Linked DNA regions of Homo sapiens: region 1 is linked to region 2. The links come from fine-mapping of genetic effects on gene expression. A gene starts in region 2. The other region holds a variant in brackets. All regions are shown on one strand. Distances are from middle to middle.

Evidence for each region. PIP is the estimated chance that this variant, and not a neighbour inherited with it, causes the effect.
Region 1: its variant is the best candidate, but not a certain one, in a credible set for the expression of CDKL5 in spinal cord (GTEx, PIP 0.52).

Annotation. Positions count from the first base shown.
Region 1 is chrX:18,785,135-18,790,514 of GRCh38, forward strand. PPEF1 (protein phosphatase with EF-hand domain 1) reads left to right here. Exons shown (of 16, transcript NM_001377996.1): 10 at 3,987-4,139. Among named protein-coding and RNA genes, the nearest start is that of PPEF1, 80 kb to the left of the region's middle. The variant G/C (reference allele first, on the strand shown) is at 2,932.
Region 2 is chrX:18,422,329-18,427,708 of GRCh38, forward strand. CDKL5 (cyclin dependent kinase like 5) reads left to right here and starts at 3,280. Exons shown (of 18, transcript NM_001323289.2): 1 at 3,280-3,367. RefSeq lists an enhancer at 2,901-3,195 and a silencer at 3,531-3,600.

The DNA of each region.
Region 1 (5,380 bases), 360 kb after region 2:
ACACATGTGAATGAGAATGTCGTTGCTGGTATCCTCCCATCTTTTTAATTAAAGTTTAATAAGTCTGACCTCCAGACCAGATGAGATCCCCTTTTGTATACTGTCAAGCCCTTTGTACATATCTTTCATCACAGTTACCGAATTTAAGTAAGAAATTGTGGTACTGTTTGTTTACTATCTTCCTCTGTTTTTCTAGTCCATTGATAAAACCCCAGCACCTGGGATGTAGTAAGTACTTAATAGTCACTGACTATCTCTTGAGGGATTTAAGATCAAAGCAGGGTAAACCTAAGACAAAACTGAATAGAAAGTTTTTTACAGCCCTCTCCTGATTCTGTGGTGATTTTACATACCACCCTTCCCCACCTCACCAACTGATGATGATGCTTCCTGGCTTACACCTGTTGTCCTATTGTAATTATTAATAGCACCTCCTTTTACTCTAAAAAAAAAAAATCCCAGTTGCAGCCAGGCATGGTAGCTCACCCCTGTAATTCCAGCACTTTGGGAGGTTGAGGTGGGCAGATCACTTGGGACCAGGAGTTTGAGACCAGTCTGGTCAACATAGCAAGATGTCATCTCTACAAAAAAGAAAAAATTAGCCAGGTGTGGTGGTGCACACCTGTGGTCCCAGCTACTTGGGAGGCTGAAGCATGAGGATTGCTGGAACCCAGGAGTTTGAGATTGCAGTGAGCTATGATCGCACCACTGCACTCCAGCCTGCATGACAGAGAGAGACCTTGTCTCAAACACAACAAAACCCAGTTGCAATAAAACTTAAGCCCACTCTAAGTTTAAGGTACCTTTCTCATTATATCAGTGAGTAATCAAGCCAATAAGACATTTTGATCAAGATATAATAGTCATTATTAACATAATGAGTGGATTAGATTCTAACCAAGAGCACAAGGGAACATGATGTCTTTGTCAGTCAAATATTGGTGAACACAGGGCATGAATGCCACATTCCATCACCACCTGCCCTATGACTACAGTGCTAATCAGTCATGGCAGCCTCTTCCAATTGACCAGATTGAACACTTTTGCTTTCCTGAGGTTAGCCTGAGCAGCCAGCTCTATCGAGGGCTTTTTGAGATATTGAGAAGATGCCTCTGGGATGTCCCTCACTAGCTCTGTGGAGATCCCAAGTTGAGGGCCACCTTAACATAGTAAAGACTGTGAGGCTCTAAGATTAGACAGACAGAACTAGGTTAACATCCTGCCTCTGCCCCTTCCTGGGTGACTGGGCAACATACTGAGGTTTTCTAATCCTTGGTTTCCACACGTATAAACTGAAGATAAAAATACCTACCATATTGGATTTTTGGGAGGATTAAATGTAATTACCTATATGAAGAAAATGGTGGCCAGGCGCAGTGGCTCACGCCTGTAATCCTAGCACTTTTGGGAGGCTGAGGTGGGCGGATCACTTGAGGGTAGGAATTCAAGACCAGCCTGGCCAAAAAGGTGAAACCCTGTCCTTACTAAAATACAAAAAAATAGCTGGGCATGGTGGTGCACACCTGTAATCCCAGCTACTTGGGAGGCTGAGGCAGGAGGATCACTTGAACCCAGGAGGCAGAGGCTGCAGTGAGCCAAGATCAAGCCACTGCACTCCAGCCTGGGTGACAGTGAAACACTATCTCAAAAAAAAAAAAAAAAAAAAGAAAAGAAAAGAAAATGGCATATACTACTAAACATATAGCTTTCTCCTCCAGTTCTCTCTTCTTTTTTCCTTATACTTGGTTCTGAGGTTTGTGTTTCAGTCACCAATACAGACCCTGGGGAGAGTTTGTGGGCCAGCCATTTTCTCAGGATACCTAAAGTTTCACCCCCTTCAGGGATAACTGTTCTACCTGCTCTTTAGACTGGCTTTAAAGATAGAAATTCAACTTGTATATTGTTTGTGTCTTCTACCCTTCCTTGAGTGAGGTTGAACTGGTAACACATACTTGTTGTATTAAATATCATTGAACTGTAGTGAAAATGATAGGTTCAACCATTTGGAACTCTATCAGATGAGACATAAAAGTAGATTGTTCCAGTCCAGTTTTATAATCCCCACTTTCCCATCCCATAGGACCCTCCAACCCTCTGTGGCAGGAGGGACCATACTTCCTGGTTTACACCTGCGGTCGTAATGGTATCATTGTTAACAGGGGTTGGGAAGGGTTGGGGGAATTTGATGACAACCTCTATTCTAGGTTCATTTAAGGTATTTTGTAAGGTGGGCAGGTTGAGGGGGGTCAATGCAGAGGGATTAAAGAATGAAGGAAGATTTTCTAAAACTAAGATTCTGGTTTATTATTTGTCAAACTCCCCAGCAAGGCATTTGCAGAAAGATGGCTACTAGACTCCCTGGGGGAAAATGGTCGTGTAGTGCCTTAGGGAGAGCTGGGGCAAAGTATCCTGATCCCAAATGGCCTTGAAAACTTCAGAGCCACACATACTTAAGAGACCATGTGGCCTTGCTCAATGAGCTCATCAGAAATGAGTTGTGTACAGCTGGGCACGGTGGCTCATGCCTATAGTCCCAGTACATTGGGAGGCCGAAGTGAGACGATCACTTGAGACCAGAAGTTCGAGACCAGCCTGGGTAACATAGCAAGACCCCATCTTTACAAAAAAAAAAAAAAAGAAAGAAAGAAAAAGGGAAAAAGAAGTGAGTTGTGTGGACCCAAGTCCAGAGGGTCCTCCCAGAATATTCTGCTCTGCCCCTAATGGGAACATTTGCTGGCAGGAGACAGGGCAGGTAGGCTGTGAACTAGCTAGCAATAGCTGAGCTTGAATTTCTACCTAGCTCAATGAGACAGGACCTCAGAATAAGATTCAATTTCATTTTTGAAAAATAAAGGTAAGATTTCCTACACACTCTAGTTTGTAAAAGAAACTAAGTGCTTGGCCGGGTGCAGTGGCTCACGCCTGTAATCC[G/C]AGCACTTTGGGAGGCCAAGGCGGGCGGATCACGAGGTCAGGAGATCAAGACCATCCTGGCTAACACGGTGACACCCCGTCTCTTCTAAAAAATAGAAAAAATTAGCCGGGCGTGGTGGCGGGCGCCTGTAGTCAGTGCTGAGGCAGGAGAATGGCGTGAACCCGGGAGGCGGAGCTTGCAGTGAGCCGAGATCGCGCCACTGCACTCCAGCCTGGGGGACAGAGCAAGACTCTGTCTCAAAAAAAAAAAAAAAAAAAAAAAGGAAACTTAAGTGCCTACCACAGAGAATTTGTCTATCACTGAACCACGGCCACCAGTATAACAGAAGTATTGTTTAATATTGTTTTGTTTAAAGACATGGTGCTACAAAGAAACAAGTATAAAATTACAGTCTCTGCTTGTGTAAGGGAACAAGAGGGATTCTAGTAATTGATGCCCTATCAGAAAGACGTTTTGTTTTCCAAAGAAACGCAGCAGTTTTGTTGCCAAGATTAGAGAACATCGTCAATGGCTGGCAGAGTCAGGCTGAGAACCACAATGCATTTAGGTTGGAAGGGCTTCTGAAGTTTTCAACCTATGTCCCCTTTAAGAACTTTCTTGGACACAGATGTACCTTTTCTCTTTTCTTCTGGAAAGCATAACAAAATGCACAGCAGCCACTCTATTAAGAGGTGTTTCTGAACTCCTGAAGATCCTATGGCTAGATAAAGGCTCAATAAGGAGACTCGTTGCCCCTACCTTGGTATCTTCCATTTTCTGTGTGGATGCCACAGAATGTGTTTAACACCTATAGAGAAACTCCAGTGAAACACAGAAACTCTTTCTTTATAGGCAATGTCTGTAATTGGAAAATGTACCAACAATGTAACAGACCCACTTTACAGACATCAGTGGATGAGTGAGATATAGGAGGTGGACGAGATGCAAAAAGTGACCGTGTGTTTTTCATTGGGTTGTGGCACCACAACATAGAAAGAATCCCACCTGGGACTGAAGTCTCTGTATGTGGCAGAATAAGCAGAGGGTTGGACTAAAGCATGAATTTGTTTTATAGATGAAATCTGTGCTGATACCACCAACGGAAACAAACAGAGACCATGACACTGACTCGAAGCACAATAAAGTAGGTGTGACTTTTAATGCACATGGAAGAATCAAAACAAATGGATCTCCTACTGAACACTTAACAGAGCATGAATGGGAACAGGTAGGTAATCAGGGTGTTCACTGCAGTGGCAACAATGACACTAGCGTGCATGTTGTCCCTTACAATATATAGATAAAAAGTGACTTTACCTTTACGAGGAGACCACATGATTCTCTTGGAATTCATCACTATATTTTTAACAGCTTTATTGAGATATAATTCACATACCATGTAACTCACCCATTTAAAGTGTATAATTCAATGGTTTTTGGTATATTCACAGTGTTGTACAACTAGCACCACAATCTAATTTTAGAACGTTTTCATCATCTGAAAAAGAAACTACATACCTATTAGCATCATTCCCCATTCCCTTCTGTAGCCACCCTGTGCCACCTAACAGCCTTAGGCAACCATCAATCTACTATCTGTCTTTACAGATTTGCCTATTCTGAACATGTTGTAGAAATGGACACATATGTGATGTTTTGTGTCTGGCTTCTTTCACTCAGCACAATGTTCTGGAGGCTCATCCATGTTGTAGCATGTATCAGTACTGAACATCTATTTGTTGCTGAATAATATTCCATTATATGGATATACACATTGTATTTATTCATTCATAAGCTGATGGACGTTTGGGTTGTTTCCACTTTTTGGCTACTATGAATAATCCTTCTATGAGCCATCACATACAAGTTTTTCTGTGCATGTATGTTTTTATTTCTCTTAAGTGTGTACCTAGGAGTGGAACTGCTGAGTCATAAACTAATTCTAAAAAAGTTTAACATTTTAAGAAAGTCCCAAACTGTTTTCCCAAGTGGCTGCACCATTTTACATTTCCAGTAGCAATGGATGAACGTTCCAATTTCTCCACATCCTCTCTAACACTTGTTATTGTCTATCATTTTGATTATAGCCATCCCAGAGGGCATGAGATGGAATCTCATTGTGGTTTTGATTTGCATTTCCCTAATGACTAATGATGTCAAGCATCTTTTCATGTGTTTATTGGATATTTGTAGATCTTCTTTGGAGAATTGTCTATTCAGATCCTTTGCCCATCTTAAAAACTGAGTTATTTATCTTTTTATTATTGCATTGTAGGAGGTTTTTTGAATATATTCTAAATACAAATCCTTTATCAGGTATATTATTTGCAAATACCCTCTCCCATTCTGTGGGTTGTCTTTTCCCCTTTCTTGATGGTGTCCTTTGCAGTACAGCAGTTTTTAATTTTGGTGATGCCCAGTCAAAATGATATATTTTTTCTCTTTGGTTGCTCGTGTTTTTGGTGTTGT
Region 2 (5,380 bases):
TTACATCTTGATTACCACTTGTTTATTGATTATTGAGACCCGTAATGAGTAGCACTCATAGGTTCTGACATCTGTAGTGGGATGCGTCTCTGGCATCTAATAGAAAGTCTGACTCAAACTGTCTGAAATGCAAGGAAAGGGCAGAGTTTGTTTAATGAAACAACTCAGTGACGTCATCAAGAACCCAGTTAAAAATTTTTTTTTCTATTTTTTGATTCTGCCTTATTTAGTGTGTAGGCTTTGACCTAGGGCTGGTTTTCCTCTTAGTCACGAAATGACTGTCAGTGGCAACAAGCGTACTTGCTTCCTTGTTCATCCAGCAGGGTAGACAGGGAAAACCTCTTTCAAACCATCAAATGTTAAATTCTTTCCTTCAGTGTAATTAGGCCACACATTGATTGACTGAGACTCTGGGTAGTGTGGAGCGGGTGGATGCCTGAACAGAGTTGGGGTTCTATTAGAAGGGCAAAAAAGCAAATCGATGCTGGGGAGGTTCTCAAGCTGTTTCTTCATCTGGAAAATGGTGAGAATTTCGCAGAGAATTGAGAGGATTAGAGATAATGTGTCAGATTTAGCAAATAAAAATCGAAGATGCTCAGTTAAAATTGAATTTGAGATAAACAGCAAATAATATTTTAGTCTAAGTATGCTCACCTCTTTCTACAAACACTACAAATTTATACATTAATTTGGTTCTTAAGCTTTTCTCCCAGATCCTGATTGCATTACAAGGTCTAGACCTAGAAGGGCATTTCGTAATTTTTTTGGCAATGGTTAGAACCTTATTTAGTTTTCTAGCCTTGTTCCACATGTATCCAGGATAAAAATACACATTTATACTAAAAATTATTCGTTGTTTATCTGAAATTCAAATTTAACGGGGCATCTTGTATTTTATCTGGCAACCCTAAATCTATGTGAAGTTCTTGGCACAGAGCAGGTATCCATTCACTGGCTAGTATTAGTGTTCTTTCTACATAAGTGCTCAGTTAAATGGCAGCATGGTACTTTTTTTTTTGGAGACAGAGTCTTACTCTAGCCCAGGCTGGAGTGCAGTGGTACCATCTCGGTTCACTGCAACCTTGACCTCCTGGGTTCAAGCAATTCTCCTGCCTCAGCCTCCTGAGTAGGTGGGATTACAGGTGCACGCCACCACTCCCGGCTAATTTTTTTCTATTTTTAGTAGAGATGGGGTTTCACCATGTTGGCCAGGCTGGTCTCGAACTTCTGACCTCAGGTGATCCACCTGCCTTGGCCTCCCAAAGTGCTGGGATTACAGGCGTGAGCCACTGCTCCCGGCGCATGGTACTTTTTAAACTTTTACTAACTTTCTAGAAAGGTTAGTTTTTGACCAAAAGACGAATTAACTAAACTGCAAGTGACTGCAAGAAATCCTTTACCACTACTTAAAACCAGATCAAAGCAAATGTCCCTAAGCAGAAGGTCATATTTGTGTATATGGGATGGCACATTATAAGGCATCTAATATTACTACTTAATACTAAATTGGACCTATATTAACAGATGTTCAGTTATTGTTTTTTCTCCATCTTCTCAATCTATACGGATAATTAATTTGTTACTTCCGGTTCACCAGGTCTAAATAAAATTTTAAAAAATTATTCATTTGAGTCAAAGGTAATGCTGCTGAAATTCCTAGTACAAAGGCTCTGATATACAGGGATGAAAATGGAGTGATTGCCCCAGGAGTTCTGGATCCACGTGGGTGAAGCTAGAGGTCACAGCACTGTTACTTTGCATCTGGAGGAGGCAGGAGACTCTGCGAAGCCCTCTGTTGTTGCCTCTGACTCCATTTTCCCTCTTTGCTAATTCATTGCTCCTACCTGTAAAATTTTCTAATATGCTTCCACTTTCATTTCCTCATCAAATATTCACCGTTATGAAAAAGAAAATCCTATTGGCTTGGTATCAAGTGGCCAAACTGAGCATGCTGCTACATATTGTTACCAGATTCACTACAGGAATAGATTAAGTGGATTTTATCCCAAATATCTATTTCCTATTACAGTACTGCATCTTTCTAATTTGGTGGCAGCTATGACCTCATACACTGCCTATTTTCCGTGCTTTTCCTAACCAGAAGAGACCCTATTTTTCTCCTTTGCTTGTTAAAGCGAAAATAATTATGCAGCTTTCCATAGATTTGTCCCCAATGTCTTTTTAAAAAAATTTTTTTTCTTTATTTTCTAAAAGTAGCATTGGAAATGTTATCTCCTTCAATTTCATCACCTCTTCATCCTCCTTGGAAACCCGATCCATGGTGGGTATTAAGATCTTTACATTTGTACTGGTTGGGCGATGACTTCATTGCTTTCAAGCCAGCTGGGGGATCTTGTGTGGCAGAGCATCGGACCGAAGCGGAGGTGTGGGTCGTTGCTGCTGCTGCTGCTGCTACTGCTGCAACAGCTCTTTGCACGCGCCCAGCTGCTGTGTAAGGAATCCTCAGGCTGCTAGGTCTTTGCGCCTAACTCACCCAAGGGACCGCAAGCTGCTGGATGAGTGTACGTGTGAGTGTGTGTTGTGTGTGTGCATATGTGCGTGTGTGTGTGCACACGCAGCGGCAACAGTTGGGCAGCAGCAGCAATGGACTTCGATATCATTTTTACCAACAACAGAGATAAACCATCCTCCATCCTGTATTTCTCAGCTCCCGCCCCGAGTATGTTCTCCCCCTCTTCTCCGACTTCCCCCACCCCAGCCCCCGGCACGGGTCCCTCCGGAGGGAGGGCAGGGTAGCTGCGCTGCAGGCAGGATTCCCTCTTTTTTCCGCAGTGACAGGCGGATTCCGGGGCCTCCTCGCCACCTCCTACCCCCGCAGCCACCCCTTTCTCAGTCACGATCTCCCCACCCCACCACCGTCGACCCTCTCCCTGCTTCCCCGCTCTACCCCCCGGCGTCGACTCCAGGCTCGGGCCCCGCCCCTCTCAGCCTCTCCAGCCCAGGTTGCTAGGGCTTGGCGGGGCAACCAAACCTGGCGTGCCAGGAGGCGCGGCGCGCGCGTGAGCGCGCAGGCGAGCTTGTATAAGGAACCAGCGTTCTTCGGCTTCGGAGACTCGAGCACGAGCGGCGCGAGCCCGAACCCCAGGACAAGCGCTTCCTCCTCATTGGCTCCTACCAGAAGGGGGCGGGGTAAAGGCGGGATCGGGCAAAACCTGAGGTGCTTTCCCATTGGTCCGAACGGGCCGGCTGGGGCGGGGCAGTTAGCAAAATAGGCTGCGCGTTCGCTTCTGCTAGAGGGCGGGGCCGGAGGTTTCGATTAGTTGTCTCTGCCGCTGGGGAAGGTAAAGCGGCGACGGCGTCCTCAGGAGCTGTGGGGTCCCCTGCTAGAAGTGGGGGACTCGGCGGGGTGAGTAGTCGCGCCGCCACCCGCCCGCCAAGCCTTCTTACCCTTACATCGGCCCCGCGTCCACCCAGCTTCTCCTGAGAGTGGAGACCCACCCAGTCCCCCCGGGCGGACAAGAGAAGGGGCGGGGGCGCCGGTTCCCCCGGAACGGGGCGACGCGGTGAGGACGTCCCAGCCCGGAGTAGCCCCTCCTCAGCGCTCCCCTGCGCCTCTGGAAGGGCTTCCCCCGAGGGGCTGGGGCTGTCTTTTGGGGTGTGGGGAGGCGAAAGGGTGTGAAAGAGGGGCGGCGGGTCGAGCCCGCCCCGCGGGGTTCCCCTCAGCGGCGGGTCTGCGGCGTCCCCGCCCCGCCGCTCCCGCGGCACGAGCTCCCCGGGGCTTGCGGCGAGGTAAGCCCCTTCCCGCCGGCGCCGAGGAGGGGCCTGCGCGCCCCAGCCCCCTGCCCGAGTTCGGAGGGAGCCCGAGACTCGCCAGGGGCCGTCAGTCGCGGCCCGGGCCCTTCTGACCTTGGCTGCCCGCGAGGGTGGGCTAGCGACCGGGCGCCGGCCCCGCGGCTCCGCAACCTCCCCCGGACAAGTTTCAGGCGATGCTGTGAAGTTCACGACTGGCATAGTGCGGGGAAGAAGAATGGCCCCTTCTCAGACCTTCATACCTTTTGGACCCTCATAGAAATCGGATTCTGGGATTTGGAACCGTCTCCCAGAACGAACAGGTCCTCCTTGCATTGACACGTTTTGTGCCCACGTTGGGGAAAAAAATAACCTGAACATATTTCAGTGTAAAGGCAGATCTTCCTTGAGGGTTTTGTTTTTCGCTTCATTTGAGTGTTAAAGAACAGATGCCTGAATAAGAAAAGCCTGACCTTAGTATCTCTACAGTGAGATTAGACGGGTGCTGTGATATTTAAGTAGTTGCAGATCAGTATTCTGTTAGCACAATCTATTTTAATTGGCTGGAATTTAAGCTGATTTTAGAAAGTATTGTTGACACCGAATGATTTCTTTCTGTGCATCTGAATTAGGTTTGTTTGAACGTAATGGTTATATAGTTAATGTAAAAGATTACACAAATTAATTTGTCTGAGAGCGTTTGTCAGAAACAGGAGACAGAGATGTGTATAGAACAGGATTATCGTTTTAGGTAACATCTGCTGGAACATTTCCAGCTTGTTTCTTTCTTGCTGTAGGGTTACAAAAAAGACATCTTCACCGAGGCTATTCGGAATTACATGTGAGTGACACTTAGATGTAAATTTGTTTTTATTTCCTTCAAGTGTTTTAAAATGTTTTGTTCACAAAATGTGAAGAGGCTATATTTACTTGTTCCTGTATGTTAGTGTTGAAGGTGATAGTATGATCTTATGATTAACAATCCAATTAGGGTCCATTAATAATAGATTTTTAAAAAAGGCGTGCTGCTTTTCGAGAATATGATAGGTTGAGTACCTAGCAAGACTTCTAATTTCTTTTTATTAAAAGTACTATTTTAGGATTGAGAATTTTTGGCGTTGACACTGAAACCAGGAATAAGGAAGCCTGCAGCAGTCTTAGCAGTTTGACACCACCAGTAGGTGTTTCTGTTGACAAATGCAGAGAAGAGAACATTTGGGAAGGAAATCTTTTTTTCGGGGCGGGGGTTGGGGGGGAGGTGAGGGTGGTTGAGGGGGGAAGGAGCCAGAAGAGAGAAGCTAATGCTGCCAGCACTGTATGCTGAGCATTTCACAAGTACAAGGAAACCTAATTAGGGAAAAATTCCGTTTGGCTCTATTAAATAATAGAACTACAAAAGAGGCATACTAAATAAAGTTAACCATTCCAAGAGTGTTAGATATTATCTGCCATTTCAGAGTAGTTGGGGGTTCCTCAATTGGAGAGGGTATCAAATCTCTTTGAATTGTCTTGCCTTTTTAACATAGTCAATGCAGCGATTAATTTGCTAGATGTATATATATCAAACAGTTGAGTATTCCAGTTTTGTTGTTTAGCATATTTCCTAAGCCTAAATTTTTTAAAATCAAAA